Regions from separate parts of the Homo sapiens genome. Here all the other regions are reported to be linked to region 2. The links are microRNA targets in miRTarBase. Many come from high-throughput screens and were not tested one by one. Region 2 holds a microRNA gene; each other region holds the end of a gene's coding sequence.

Evidence for each region. The annotated mature microRNA hsa-miR-6793-3p reads UCCCCAACCCCUGCCCGCAG and lies in region 2 at 1,970-1,989, shown strand. An mRNA with a match to its seed (bases 2 to 7 or 8) in the 3' UTR can be bound and repressed. Matches are read on the target gene's strand: a 7mer-m8 pairs with bases 2 to 8, a 7mer-A1 pairs with bases 2 to 7 and ends in A, and an 8mer does both.
Region 1: the mRNA of FNBP1L is a reported target of hsa-miR-6793-3p. The part of its 3' UTR that is shown has no 7-base or 8-base seed match.
Region 3: the mRNA of CHML is a reported target of hsa-miR-6793-3p. Seed matches in the 3' UTR shown: 7mer-A1 at 2,122-2,128.
Region 4: miRTarBase lists SP1 as a target of hsa-miR-6793-3p. Seed matches in the 3' UTR shown: 8mer at 740-747.

The regions. Positions count from the first base shown.
Region 1 is chr1:93,552,051-93,555,273 of GRCh38, forward strand. It overlaps FNBP1L (formin binding protein 1 like), which reads left to right. Exons shown (of 17, transcript NM_001164473.3): 17 at 359-2,611. The coding sequence ends at 366. Among named protein-coding and RNA genes, the nearest start is that of TRC-GCA7-1, 37 kb to the left of the region's middle. RefSeq lists a silencer at 622-916 and an enhancer at 964-1,492.
Region 2 is chr19:10,827,047-10,830,046 of GRCh38, forward strand. MIR6793 (microRNA 6793) reads left to right here and starts at 1,927; the gene lies at 1,927-1,989. DNM2 (dynamin 2) reads left to right here. Exons shown (of 21, transcript NM_001005361.3): 19 at 1,990-2,222.
Region 3 is chr1:241,630,962-241,634,184 of GRCh38, forward strand. It overlaps CHML (CHM like Rab escort protein), which reads right to left. Exons shown (of 2, transcript NM_001381853.1): 2 at 1-3,223. The coding sequence ends at 2,835. The region is part of intron 1 of OPN3 (opsin 3); the gene reads right to left. Among named protein-coding and RNA genes, the nearest start is that of CHML, 7.8 kb to the right of the region's middle.
Region 4 is chr12:53,410,502-53,413,724 of GRCh38, reverse strand. It overlaps SP1 (Sp1 transcription factor), which reads right to left. Exons shown (of 6, transcript NM_138473.3): 6 at 1-2,798. The coding sequence ends at 2,485. Among named protein-coding and RNA genes, the nearest start is that of AMHR2, 12 kb to the left of the region's middle.

The DNA.
Region 1 (3,223 bases), not on the chromosome of region 2:
AAGATATGTGTACCGCCTTTAGGGCATTTTGTTATTTCCGCTGAATCATTAGTTATTAGGATAGATAAATTTTTCCAATTAGTTTCAGCAAGCGTTGTTGGAAACACTGTGCAGTCAAGGATTGTGCAGTGCTGGTTGTGTGACCACACCCTGAGTCAGTGGTGTGGGGAAGTAAAGTGTGAAGAAGCAGTAAGATTGGTTTTTAATTTTGCCCATGTTTTAAATTTTCCTGGTGTTTTCGGTAGCTGACTATAAAATGATAGAGACATTTGGGACAGGCACTTTAAACTGAACACCCCTTTTGGTTTTACCAAAGGTCTTCAGTAATTGTTCTTTTCTTTTTCCTCCTGGACTGCAGGTTCCTGAAGAGGGTTTCTGAGGAAATGGGCAAGATGTTGAAGGAGGTTACATGCAGCTGCTTTTGGGGGAGGGTATTAGAGTTGTCAGGCTCAAAGAGAGTGAGAGAAGCAAGTTGCATGAGTGCATGCAGACATGATTTTTTTTTTACTAACTTCATTAGCATTTCCATACATTGTTTTTAAAAATCATAATACCAACCCTTAAGTTCCTAGTTCACAGTTATTCCCACAAAAGAAAAAGCCAACAATAGTGTACCATTTTTCTATTTATTTTATTGCTGTCTAATCAATAAAGAATGCAGAGCTGTCAAAAAATGTGTCTTACATTAGCTGTCCCAACAGGATTGTCTTCCCTCCCAGCTCTGTTTTAATTGGCTTTTAGACCCACTATCTGTCAGATCCTTGCCATCTGTCAGTGTCTGCCTGCGCCACCTCCGTGCTTGCTTAACATCCTGTTGCATGTCTAGCGTGATTGAGCTAGATTTTTCAGGCATGTCTTTAGATTCCCTTGTTCTTGTCAAAGCCTTGTTTTGTTTTACATTTGTAGTGCAAATCACTTTGTCAAACATCTCCAGCACTAATGTTTCCATCTTAGTATTTGTGCACACTGCTATAACTTCCCCACTGCAAACATTCCAGTTTTGGCATTACGAAGAAGTAGCTGTGAACCTGAAGTATTTATGATAAGAAAAAGAAAACATCTCTGCTGTAGCCTACAGCCCAGTTGAAAGAACTCTTTGAAACGTGATACATCTTCAGCACCTCAGTCTGGGAAGAATCTAGTCAGCACTGAAATCCTGGCATAATAAACACAGAAGATATTCACCACCTCAAGACAAAGGACTATTGTCAAAAGTCAGCTGCTTCCATTCAAATGCTGCCTTAAACTTGAGTGCCTAAATCTGTTGATTGCCAACACTACCACTACAGTATCCCACAAAGGGCTTTATGTGTCAGCTCAGTGCGACCTGCTTTAACTCTGCAGCACCGCTGCAGCTGCCGATGTAGCCTCGGTAGGTGGCTATTAGAGCTCTACCATATACAGTGGTGCATCTTCAAATTTATGCATCAAACTAAAGACATGTCCAAGTCCATTTTAATTTCCTCAGTGGTTTTATGAGAAGTTTTATGGGCCTCCCCCAATTGTCTTTTTATTTTGGGTTATGACGATCATGTTTGATAATTACAATGATAGTCTCTTTCCACGTGATGCTTTTGTTTGAACCTGATAAAATTTAGTGAAACTTTGTAATGATCTATGTGCACTTTTACTTGTAAAATGGAATTTCTGTATGTTTATACTTGTAAATATGATTGTTGTTAGTGCTCCTGTTGCTCATGGTGTCCTGCCTCGCATTTGTGATTCTGTTAATGACATGTATCTTAACTAATTTCTTAGTGGTGTTGTAATAGGGAGATGGGGCAGGTGGGGGGTTATTTGTACCACTGAATCTTCATTAATTTGGTTCTTTACTGTTTTGAGGGGAGAAAGAACGTGAAATGGTTTGTGTATTATTGAATTTTAAGCAATATTTTAGAAGCTGTGTGACTGCTTTAATAACTTTTTCCCAGTGTTATTTGAATCATACTACCCGTTATACTAAAGCTGAATGACAATTGTGTGAAAGTTACTGCCTTCATAAGATCAAGTCACCACTGTTACACAGCTGACATATAGTGTATTACCTTTGCAGCTAGTAAACTATAAAGTTTAGATATTGAATCTCGTTACAGGGTTATTTATATAATGTGACATTATTCAGTACTGACAGACTACATGAAGTAGTTTTAAAATCTAGTGCTATTTTTATTTTAAAGGTTAGCAATGAGGAGGAAATGTGATCTGGCTGTGTTTGTCTTCTGTACAAAGCCTGAAGTGCTTATGGTTTTTTGGCTAACAGCCACAGAGGGCAAAGTTTAAGACTTTCTTGTAAGGACTAACTGTTCTTTTCAAGCTACTGTTTGTTTTTCTAAAAGCAGGATTTGCTTCCGTAGGAGGCAAGTTCCTTGATGTGGAATAGTGCAACCTGTATATGGGTTATTATAATAGGAAAGACATTTGTACTTGCACAGTTTAAATCATTCTTAAATTTTGAACATGTGAATTGTCCCAAAAAATCTTTAATTTTTTGGTAATTTTTACTCTTTTTGTGCACATGTTGATTTCTTAATGGTAAATCCTTCATTTAAAGATAGTGTTCTCTGTTGAGAATATTTACATGGAATAAAACAATCTTTTCATGGCCTGTTAAGGTGTTTAGTGTGTGATCTTTCATTGCTATGTGAATCAGAGATGTGATGATTTTGTTCTTGAATGTGCCAAGTCTCAGATAATACAGAGTAGATGACAAATTCCATAAGTGGGACAAGTTTTTTTTGTTTTTTGCAAAGCAGTTTTGGAAATTGTATTCTAATTTTGGTTTCTCTAAGCTTTCCTAAAGGAAAAAAAAAGTTTGCTGTCTCTTTAGAGTGAATTTAAATTGCATGCAATAATTTGGATTTATCTTTCTTCTCCAGTAGCTGTGTTGCATAGACTTTCCTTTTACACCATCTGTCCACTGCAACCATACGAACTGTCCCTGTACCTCATAGCCCAATCTAGCCACTACACGCTGGACAGCATTTCCTGTGCTCCGGCTTGATTCCTAATCAGTTACAACACCCAAGTCTTCCTGGCATTTCAAAGCATGGAAAGAACATTTGCCATAATTAGTGACACATTATCTGTAACTTCAGGAAGTCTAATTTCAGAAGATTCACCTTTTAAAAAATGCAAATGTGAAACTATGACTGCAAACTTTTAGAAACTCAGAAAAGGGAATAAAATTCAGGGTAGATGCTGAACAATGAGAGGTTACGATTGT
Region 2 (3,000 bases):
CAAGACCAGCCTGGACAACATAGTGAGACCCCATCCCTATTTAAAACACACACACACCTCCCACGTGCCATGCCCTCCCACCCTGTTGCTCCCATTCTCAGTAGTGATCAGTGTTCACAGTTTCATGGTGTCCTGGTATGTTTCCTCATATACCGATAGGATCGGAGACATATACGGTTCTTCTGCTATGAAATTTAAAATGCATATATCCTTTGACCCTGCAAGTTTACTTTTAGGAACTTCTCTAAGAGAGACAATTGCCCACGTGCAAAGTGAGCTTATACATGCTTATTGTTTTCCATGATGTTTTATAGCAGCCAAAGATGGGACATAATTATCCATTTTTAATAGACTCTTATAAAATAAAAATATTTTATTATTTAAGAAAATAATAAATCTGTCGGCCCAGCTACTCGGGAAGCTGAGGCAGGAAGATCACTTGAGCCCAGGAGATCGAGGCTGCGGTGAGCAAAGATCGCTCCACTGCATTCCAGCCTGAGTGATAGGAGTGAGACCCTATCTAAAAAAAAAAAAAGTTGTGACGGCCAGGTGTGGTGGCTCATGCCTGTAATCCCAGCACTTTGGGAGGCTGAGGCGGGCACATCACGAGGTCAAGAGACTGAGACCATCCTGGCCAACATGCTGAAACCCCCCTCTACTAAAAATACAAAAATTAGCTGGGCGTGGTGGCACGCGTCTGTAGTCCCAGCTACTCTGGAGGCTGAGGCAGGAGAATCACTTGAACCTAGGAGGTGGAGTTTGCAATGAGCGGAGATCATGCCACTGTACTCCAGCCTGGTGACAGAGGGAGACTCTGTCTCAAAAAAAAAGAAAAAAAAAAGTAACTGAAAAACTTCTGTATCCAGTAGGAGGTTCCAGAAAGGACAATGTATAAAATTCATGAACAGAAACTAGTAGTGTTTGAACAGAAGCCAGGTGGAAGATGTAACAGGATTAGCCGGGCGCAGTGGCTCACTCACGCCTGTAATCCCAGCACTTTGGGAGGCCAAGGCGGGTGGATCACCTGAGGTCAGGAGTTAAAGACCAGCCTGGCCAATATGGTGAAACCCCATCTCTGCTAAAAATACAAAAATTAGCCGGGGGTTGGGGGGCACGCCTGTAGTCCCAGCTACTTGGGAGGTTGAGGCACAAGAATTGCTTGGACCCAGGAGACGCAGGTTGCAGTGAGCCAAGATTGCACTGCAGCCTGGGTGACAGAGTGAGACTCTGTCACAAAAAAATAAAGATATAACAGGATTGGCTGGGCGCGGTGGCTCACGCCTGTAATCCCAGCACTTTGGGAGGCTGAGGCAGGCGGATCATAAGGTCAGGAGATCGAGACCATCCTGGCTAACAGGGTGAAACCCTGTCTCTACTAAAAATACAAAAAATAAGCTGGGCGTGGTGGCAGGCGCCTGTAGTCCCAGCTACTTGGGAGACTGAGGCAGGAGAATGGCATAAACCCGGGAGGCGGAGGTTGCAGTGAGCTGAGATTGCACCACTGCACTCCAACCTGGGCGACAGTGAGACTGTCTCAAAAAAAAAAAAGCAAAAACAAAAAAGATATAACAGGATTATTCTGCCAAGGTTAAGGAAATAAATAAATAAGCTAAAACAGGAGAAAAGACATCAATGGAAGAGGCAAGATACTAGAAATAAGTTGAATAAGAATCTCATAACCAGCCTGGGCCACATGGTGGAACCCTATCTCTAAAAAAATTACAAAACTTAGCCAAGCATGGTGTCAACGTGCCTGTCGTCCTAGCTACTTGGGAGGCTGAGGCAGGATAATTACTTGAACCCGGGAGGCGGAGGTTGCAGTGAGCTGAAATTGAGCCACTGTACTCCAGCCTGGGTGACAGAGCAAGACTCTTTTTCAAAAAAGTCTGGGGGTGGCCCCGCCCTGTGAGAGATGTTTTTCCAGCAGTCACTGTGGGTTCTGGGTTGGGGTGATACACAAGCCTGACCCTCCCCAACCCCTGCCCGCAGACGAAGGCCTTCATCCACCACGAGCTGCTGGCCTACCTATACTCCTCGGCAGACCAGAGCAGCCTCATGGAGGAGTCGGCTGACCAGGCACAGCGGCGGGACGACATGCTGCGCATGTACCATGCCCTCAAGGAGGCGCTCAACATCATCGGTGACATCAGCACCAGCACTGTGTCCACGCCTGTACCCCCGCCTGTCGATGACACCTGGCTCCAGAGCGCCAGCAGCCACAGGTCCGGAAGCCTGGTTCCCCTACCCTCAAGCATTCGGCCTGCAGGTTCCTGCCCTCCCTGTGTGTCCTGCAGGGTCCTGGCAGGAAACAGGACACAGCCCAAGGGTGGCACCCAGGGCTGGGCACTGTGGGAGCTGCTGCCCTGCTGAGGCCGGAGGAGGGAGAGAAGGGGTATGGGGGCGAGCCAGCCCTACAGCTCTAGGGCAGGACCCTGTGAATAAATACCCCGCCTGCCCTCTGCTGGTGCCTTCCATTGGCACAGCCCAAATGGAAGCTGGGGTAAGAGGCTGGAGGGGCAGCAGCCACAGGAGAGAGATGAGCCTCCTGGAGCACAGAGAAGGGCAGATGGGAGGCTCTGGAGGGGCAAACGCAAGGCGTGGCCAGAGCTGCTGCCGCCCCTGAGTTGTCCATTGAGGCCGTCGGGCAGGGAACCTCAGAGGGGGCTGCCTTGCAGAGCCCTGGGGGAGCCATGGAGTTCCTTAAGGGGAGGATATCGCACCCAGGCCTGCAGGTGGCAGGGACTGAGGCCCAGGAGGGAATCTGGATGTCTGGACAGGGCTTGCAGGTTCCACGGCCCCTAGAGATATTAGGGCTTGATCTGGAGGACTCTGGAAGTGTCTTTGGCTGTGAGGGTGGATCCCAGGCCCAAGGCCTGAGGGGGCCCTGTGAGTGGGAAGTGCCTGAGGGGGCCGAGGGCAAGGGAAGGTGGGACTGGCGCTCAGGTTGGGGTGGGAGGATCCCACTGCGCCTGCGCTGTCCCCATAGCCAGCCCCCACCTC
Region 3 (3,223 bases), not on the chromosome of region 2:
GAATAAAATCCTTCTAAAAATGTCTTTTAGTACTGAGAACATGTCTGCCTCAAAAGACAATTTGAAGCATACTGTCCTTCATGATACATGGATAGACATTATTTAAACATTTGAAAAAGTTCACCAGTAAGTCCATTAGGGTCAAAGTCCAACCTGTCAGAAAATTATACTGGGTTACAATATCCCCTAAATTTTTAAATGCTTTTTATTGGTATAACTTCTCATTTCCCACTTATTTTGTATTAAGAAATATATTCATTTTCTTCATTTCTAAATCAACCTTTATTTTCGACTAATTTTTCCTATTTCCATTATATTCGGCTATACCATCTTTTGCAACTTCTGATTGTTCCTTTTCTCAATTTCTTATGAATAATCTGTGATACTGAAAATCTTTTCGGTAGATCTGGAATACCTTCACCTTCATTTTATTTATCATCTTATGTATTTCTCATTTTAATTACTATTTTATAGGTCTATTTCAAGTATTTCAGTTGTTCTGTTAGATTTAAACTTTAGGATAAAGTTTAAATATGACTTTTACTATATTTTTAAAAGTCAATACAATCCATGACTTTGCTACTTTAAGTAAGTTGTCAATTACTTAAATCTGTCTAGTCTCATTTTCCTCACATATAGAGGAGCAAAAATTAGTGTATTCCGAACAAATTTTGGCCTGATAATATTTTTTGTAACACAATCTTCAGATCATGAGATGTGTTACTGAAGAACATTTTGTTAAAATTTAGCCAAATTCTGCTTCGAGATCCATGCTCTAAAATATGTTTGTTTAGTTCATCTTATCTTCACATTTCTCTGATTCAATAAGCTGCAGGACCAGTGTGTGCTTTTTACCCCCGGCAATGCTAGACTAATTTTCGTGGGCACTTTCTCTTTCTCCTGCAGCGCCTACACTCTCTAACAGTGAATGTTAGTAGAAAGATCAAAGGTTTTAGAATCACAAAAGGCTGGGTCCCCATGTTGGCTCTTCCACATACCAGATTCTGAGCAAATTACTAATAATTCTCTTATTTCTTCTTTGAAGGTGATATGGTTTGGCTGTGTTCCCACTCAAATCTCATCTTGAATTGTAGCTCCTATAATTCCCACGTGTTGTGGGAGGAACCTGGTGGGAGATAACTGAATCATGGAGTTGTTTCCCCCATACTGTTCTCATGGTAGTAAATAAGTCTCACGATATCTGATGGTTTTAAAAGGGTTTCCCTTTTCACTTAGTTCTCATTCTCTCTTGTCCACCGCCATGTAAGACGTGCCTTTCACCTTCCACCATGATTGTGAGGCCTCCCCAGCCACATGGAACTGTGAGTCCATTAAACCTTTTTCTTTACAAATTACCATCTCAGGTGTGTCTTTATCAACAGCATGAGAACACACTAATACAGAGGGTACATGCGAATTTGCCTCACAGGATTGTTGAGAAACTGTCATGAGAAAGCATAATACTAGGTACCAAACACATGATAAATACTATTTCAGAGCAAAAACTGTCACAGGGATCATCATACTCTGACTGAAGAATGGAAACTGGACTAGAGGAAAAGCAAGTTCATGTCTTCTGACAGCTCCACAGGTTTTCACCATTAGAGTACTACCAGTTTTATGACGTTGGGTGGCTCTGGGAGAAAAAAAGTTTCTATACTCTGGATAACAGCTAAGAGGCAAGAGAGATTACAGAAAATTGTTACTTCACAATTTGTTAAGTGGGACACAACCGAAAGGGCATGGTAAATCCTCCTTTGATTCATTCCTATCAGTTATGTTATAGTGATATTAATTAAAGTGGTAGAGCCAACAAGGTGGTATGTTTCATTCTCACTGAAAAACCTTGGGTAATCTATTTATAGAGGGTTTTATAAGTATCTGTAATCTCAGGTTAAAAAGGCCTCACTCTGTTTCTCCTTAGGAATTCCTAAGAATTCCTCCTTAGGAATTTCAGAACAGCCCTTCTGAAGTATCTTCTCCTGGGGCACTTCATTTTTCCTTTTGGTCTAAGTTACTTATTGGAAGCTATTTTAAGTGCCAGGGCAGGGCTCTGCAGAAATTTTCTGAAGTATTAAATAAGAATAAATCTTATCTTTCAAATTTCCTTTGCAATCAACCTCCCCAAAATGAGCTTTACAACCACTAATTGAACTCCAATTCTTTTTGTAAATTAGAATACTGTGGTGGCATCATTGCCTCATCAGTTACAAGGGTCAAGTGAGTATTATAAACTTCAGACCTTCACAGTGCATAAAGGATCATGCAAAGCTAATCTTTAAACGATTATAGACAAATGTATTTTATTATCATATTGGCATTTGTATTAGTTGCTATTCCTACCACCATGTCTATACATTTATATTATATGCAAAAGATCCACATAATTTACCATTTGTGTATGTTTCACTATTCGAACAGGCCGCAGCAACTGTAACAGCTGCAAAAGTAATTAAAATATTACTTGGGTATTACTAATTGTTCTGTAGACAAAGATAAAATCTGAAGATCATTAGCAAATACATTACCTTTAAGCTGAGTTGCTAATATGGAACCCTTACATATATACCCAATACTAAAATAAAGCTAACTCTGTTTTAAGATTCTGGGTCATATAGCCCATTCTAAACAAAATGTTCAATAATCAATAAATCACTCATTGATAGGTTAACAAAGATATTCAATGCTGAATGTCTGAGAGTTAAAGACAACATCTGCATAGCATTCATCATATATAACCACTTCTAATTACTCATATGGGAAACTGTCCTTTAAATGAGAAAATTCTGATGCCATGAAGGAGGTCCAAAACAGCATTTCGAGATTGCTCTTTTCTAATTTTGAAGGTGCTTCTCTGGGCTTTCTAGGTTTTTGCTTTCCTCAGAGGATTCTAGTTTGGCCATTACTACATTATTGGTTCCAGGAGCCTCTGGCTGCTTATCATCACCATCAAAGATAATGTCTTCTGGATTTGGAGGTGGAGGGCAGAATTCTTCAGTTGGAAAGATCTCCTGGAAAAGTGTTTCAGCTTGCTTGACAGCATGCTCATTTCCCAGGCCACAGTCAGGCCCAGAGCAGACATAAACATTGGAAGGCAAGCCATTATACGAGCTTCTGCTGATTCCCGAGGAATCTCTCATATTAAAATAAAGAGCCCACAAGAGTCTTGGCTTTGTAAGTTCTTCCTCGTTTATTTCTGTTTCAGTATACGGAGTGAATAATT
Region 4 (3,223 bases), not on the chromosome of region 2:
TCCAGTGAGTTATCCTGCCCCTTTCCTCCAAAAGATGCCAAAGTACATGATTACAGACATAAAATAACAGGTTCTGAGTTCTGCCTTTCAGTGAGAATAAAGGGTATGATAGTGGCTGTGCATGGATGACTTGTATCTCAGCGTTAATAGAATTTGATCTGGGGAAAGTTCCTTGCCATAGTTCCTGAGTTGAAAACATAATTACATCTGTGGAGAAAGGACCAAATGGAGTGAACTATTGTTTAGAGTATTAAGTTACTATAGTTCAGATTAAACAACACACTTACCCAAAACTTAATTTGGATGGATTTTATATAAAATATATAATAGAATCATACCATCATCTATTTGTAGCCAAAGTAAAAAGATTTATGAGAAGAATAAGGACTCTGCTATAGATCTGGATGTTGGTTTCACTTTCAAACACAAAAATAGTTTCTTTTTAAAAAAGTACAGTAGAATATCCTCCATTCATAATTGTAATTAATTTAGCATAAGCAAAGAAATGACCTTAGGAACATACCCAGGTTTTAAGATAGATTTCTAGGTAATGGGCCTGAAAGGCATTTTGATCTGAATTTATTTTCCAACGATTTCAAATATAATTTGTCATCTGTGTGTAGACATATACGGGCATGAACACACATTCACCCACACATACAAAAACACTTGCTTTCTATCAGATCAGGGTAATTTTTTTATTGCAGGTCTCTTTTAATATTGGCTAGCAGAAAACCTATCCCCAACCTAACAGATTACACACACACACACACACACACACACACACACACACAGAGCTATTTTTCCACACTTCCTCACAGTGAAAAGCTCTCTAACAAGATACCAGAAGGTCGAGAGAGACAATGCTTTTATGGCTGGGCCTTGAGGACAATTCTGGTTGCATTTAAATCTCAGTGCCAAATGCACTAGGTTCCCTGCCGTTATAATTTTTGGATCAGTCTCTTCTGAAATCAGGTCACAGAGAAAACAGGATGATTTCTCCCAATCTCTCCTATAAAACACTGTGGTAAGACAAGATTTCTTTTTGTTCTGGGCTATCATTCCCATGATCATGTGCTTCCCTTTCCCTTAGGAACCACCCAAGAACATACAAGGAAAAGTTAAGGGAAAACATCATAAGAACCACTGTCTTGCCACTAGCACATGCTTTGGAGGAGTTCTGCAGAATGGAAACCTGAAACAGATTCACTGGCTGATGCTCCTTATTGACAATGGAAAAGAACCTAGTGGGGATGTTCAAAAGAAGTGTATTTCCTTTCAGAATATAAACTCAGAAGCCCACACATCAAAACTTAGAGCTACCTTGGAAGACAGCAGTACCAAAGTCCAAATACTCCACTAACTCCTGAACCTGACTACGAGTCATTTCCTCTTCTGAGCACATGATTTTCCTAGTGAAAGCCCCCTACCTATTATTTGAAAATTTGACAGTTTATACAAACTGAGCCAAGATTATTATCTTCAAAGGGACTCTTGTACAATTCCACTGAAAGACTTCTAATTCTTGATGCTCAGAGCAGCTAATGAAGGGAGATGCCTTTGACTCTCCAGCGCCAAGAAGGTGCCTGCGTCAGTAGTATTTTGAACACTCCCTCCACAGTTACTTCAAGCATCAGCCTGGGCTTCAAGGATTTTTCCATTCTGCTGCTGGAACTAAGGTCCTGAAAAAATTGACAGAAGTGCCTCATCCAGGCAGTAACAAAAACAAAACATGAAGTGATCAGATGAGAGAAGATGAGACGGCAACAGTTGAGTTAGGGAAGGAGTGCAAGAAGCTGATCCCAAACAAAAAGACAAAATTAAGAAAGGAAAAACATTATGTATGTATATATGAACTAAAAGCAGAGCATATGAACGCTTAAGCTGGTGGGAAGCCAAGACAACATCTACAGAAAAGCTTGATGTGTCACAACAAGGCTCAGCCATAGGGAAATAAGGCAATATAAAAAAAATGACCAAGGTATTTTGGTCACAGAATGGTCTTCCTCCTCCCAGCCAACCCCTGTGAATGCATCTCTATATATCTTTATATATATATATATATATATAATAATATAGAATCTGTTTTTTGTTAAAAAGTATTTCAATGATCATATATATTTATCAAGGCATGATGGCTTTAGGAAAGGGGGGGGAATCCATCATGGAAGAGCTGAGAAGAGAAATGCAGGAAGGGTAGGCTGGGGTAAGAAGTGTAAGAAGAAACTGGGGTCAAACAAATGCTCATCAAAGCGTGGCACCAACAGAATTTTCACTAATGTTTCCCACCTTCAAAGAGGCACTGATGATACAGATGGGTGCCGGGACCCCATCTCCTCTCTTGTATCCCTCTCCTGATTCTTCTCAACACCATGCATTTTAATGCTTCATGGCTCTCTCTTCCATGTCTCTTGGACCCATGCTACCTTGCATCCCGGGGTTAAGGGGTATGGCCCATATGTCTCTGGCCCCGGGTGCCTGATCTCAGAAGCCATTGCCACTGATATTAATGGACTGCAGATCTGCCACCTGCATGACGTTGATGCCACTGTTGGCAAGACGGGCAATGCCCTCTGGACAGATGGCCTCCATGGCTACCATATTGGTGGTAATAAGGGCTGAAGGAGTGGCAGTGCCACTGCCTTCTGAACCTGCCCCACTGTCCAGGGGCAAAGTGCCCACACTCAGAGCTACACCTGGGCCTCCCTTCTTATTCTGGTGGGTCTTGATATGTTTTGACAGGTGGTCACTCCTCATGAAGCGCTTAGGACACTCAGGGCAGGCAAATTTCTTCTCACCTAGGTAAAGGAAGAAAAGATAAGAAGCTGACATGTTAGGAAGTGAGGTTACCTTACCCAATTCAGTGCTTACTCTACTAAGCTGAGTAAGGCCAGTATGAGAAGGTGATCAAAAACAAGAAAAATCTTCAAGTGGCTGGGCGTGGTGGCTCACGCTTGTAATCCCAGCACTTTGGGAGGCCAAGGCGGGCAGATCACGAGGTCAGGAGATCAAGACCACGGTGAAACCCTGTCTCTACTAAAAATACAAAAAATTAGCCGGGCGTGGTGGCGGGCGCCTGTAGTCCCAGCTACTCGGAGAGGCTGAGGCAGGAGAATGGCGTGGACCCGGGAGGCGGAGCTTGCAGTGAGCCGAGATCGCGCCACTGCACTCCAGCCTGGGCGACAGAGACTCTGTCTCAAAAAAAAAACAAAAAACAAAAAAC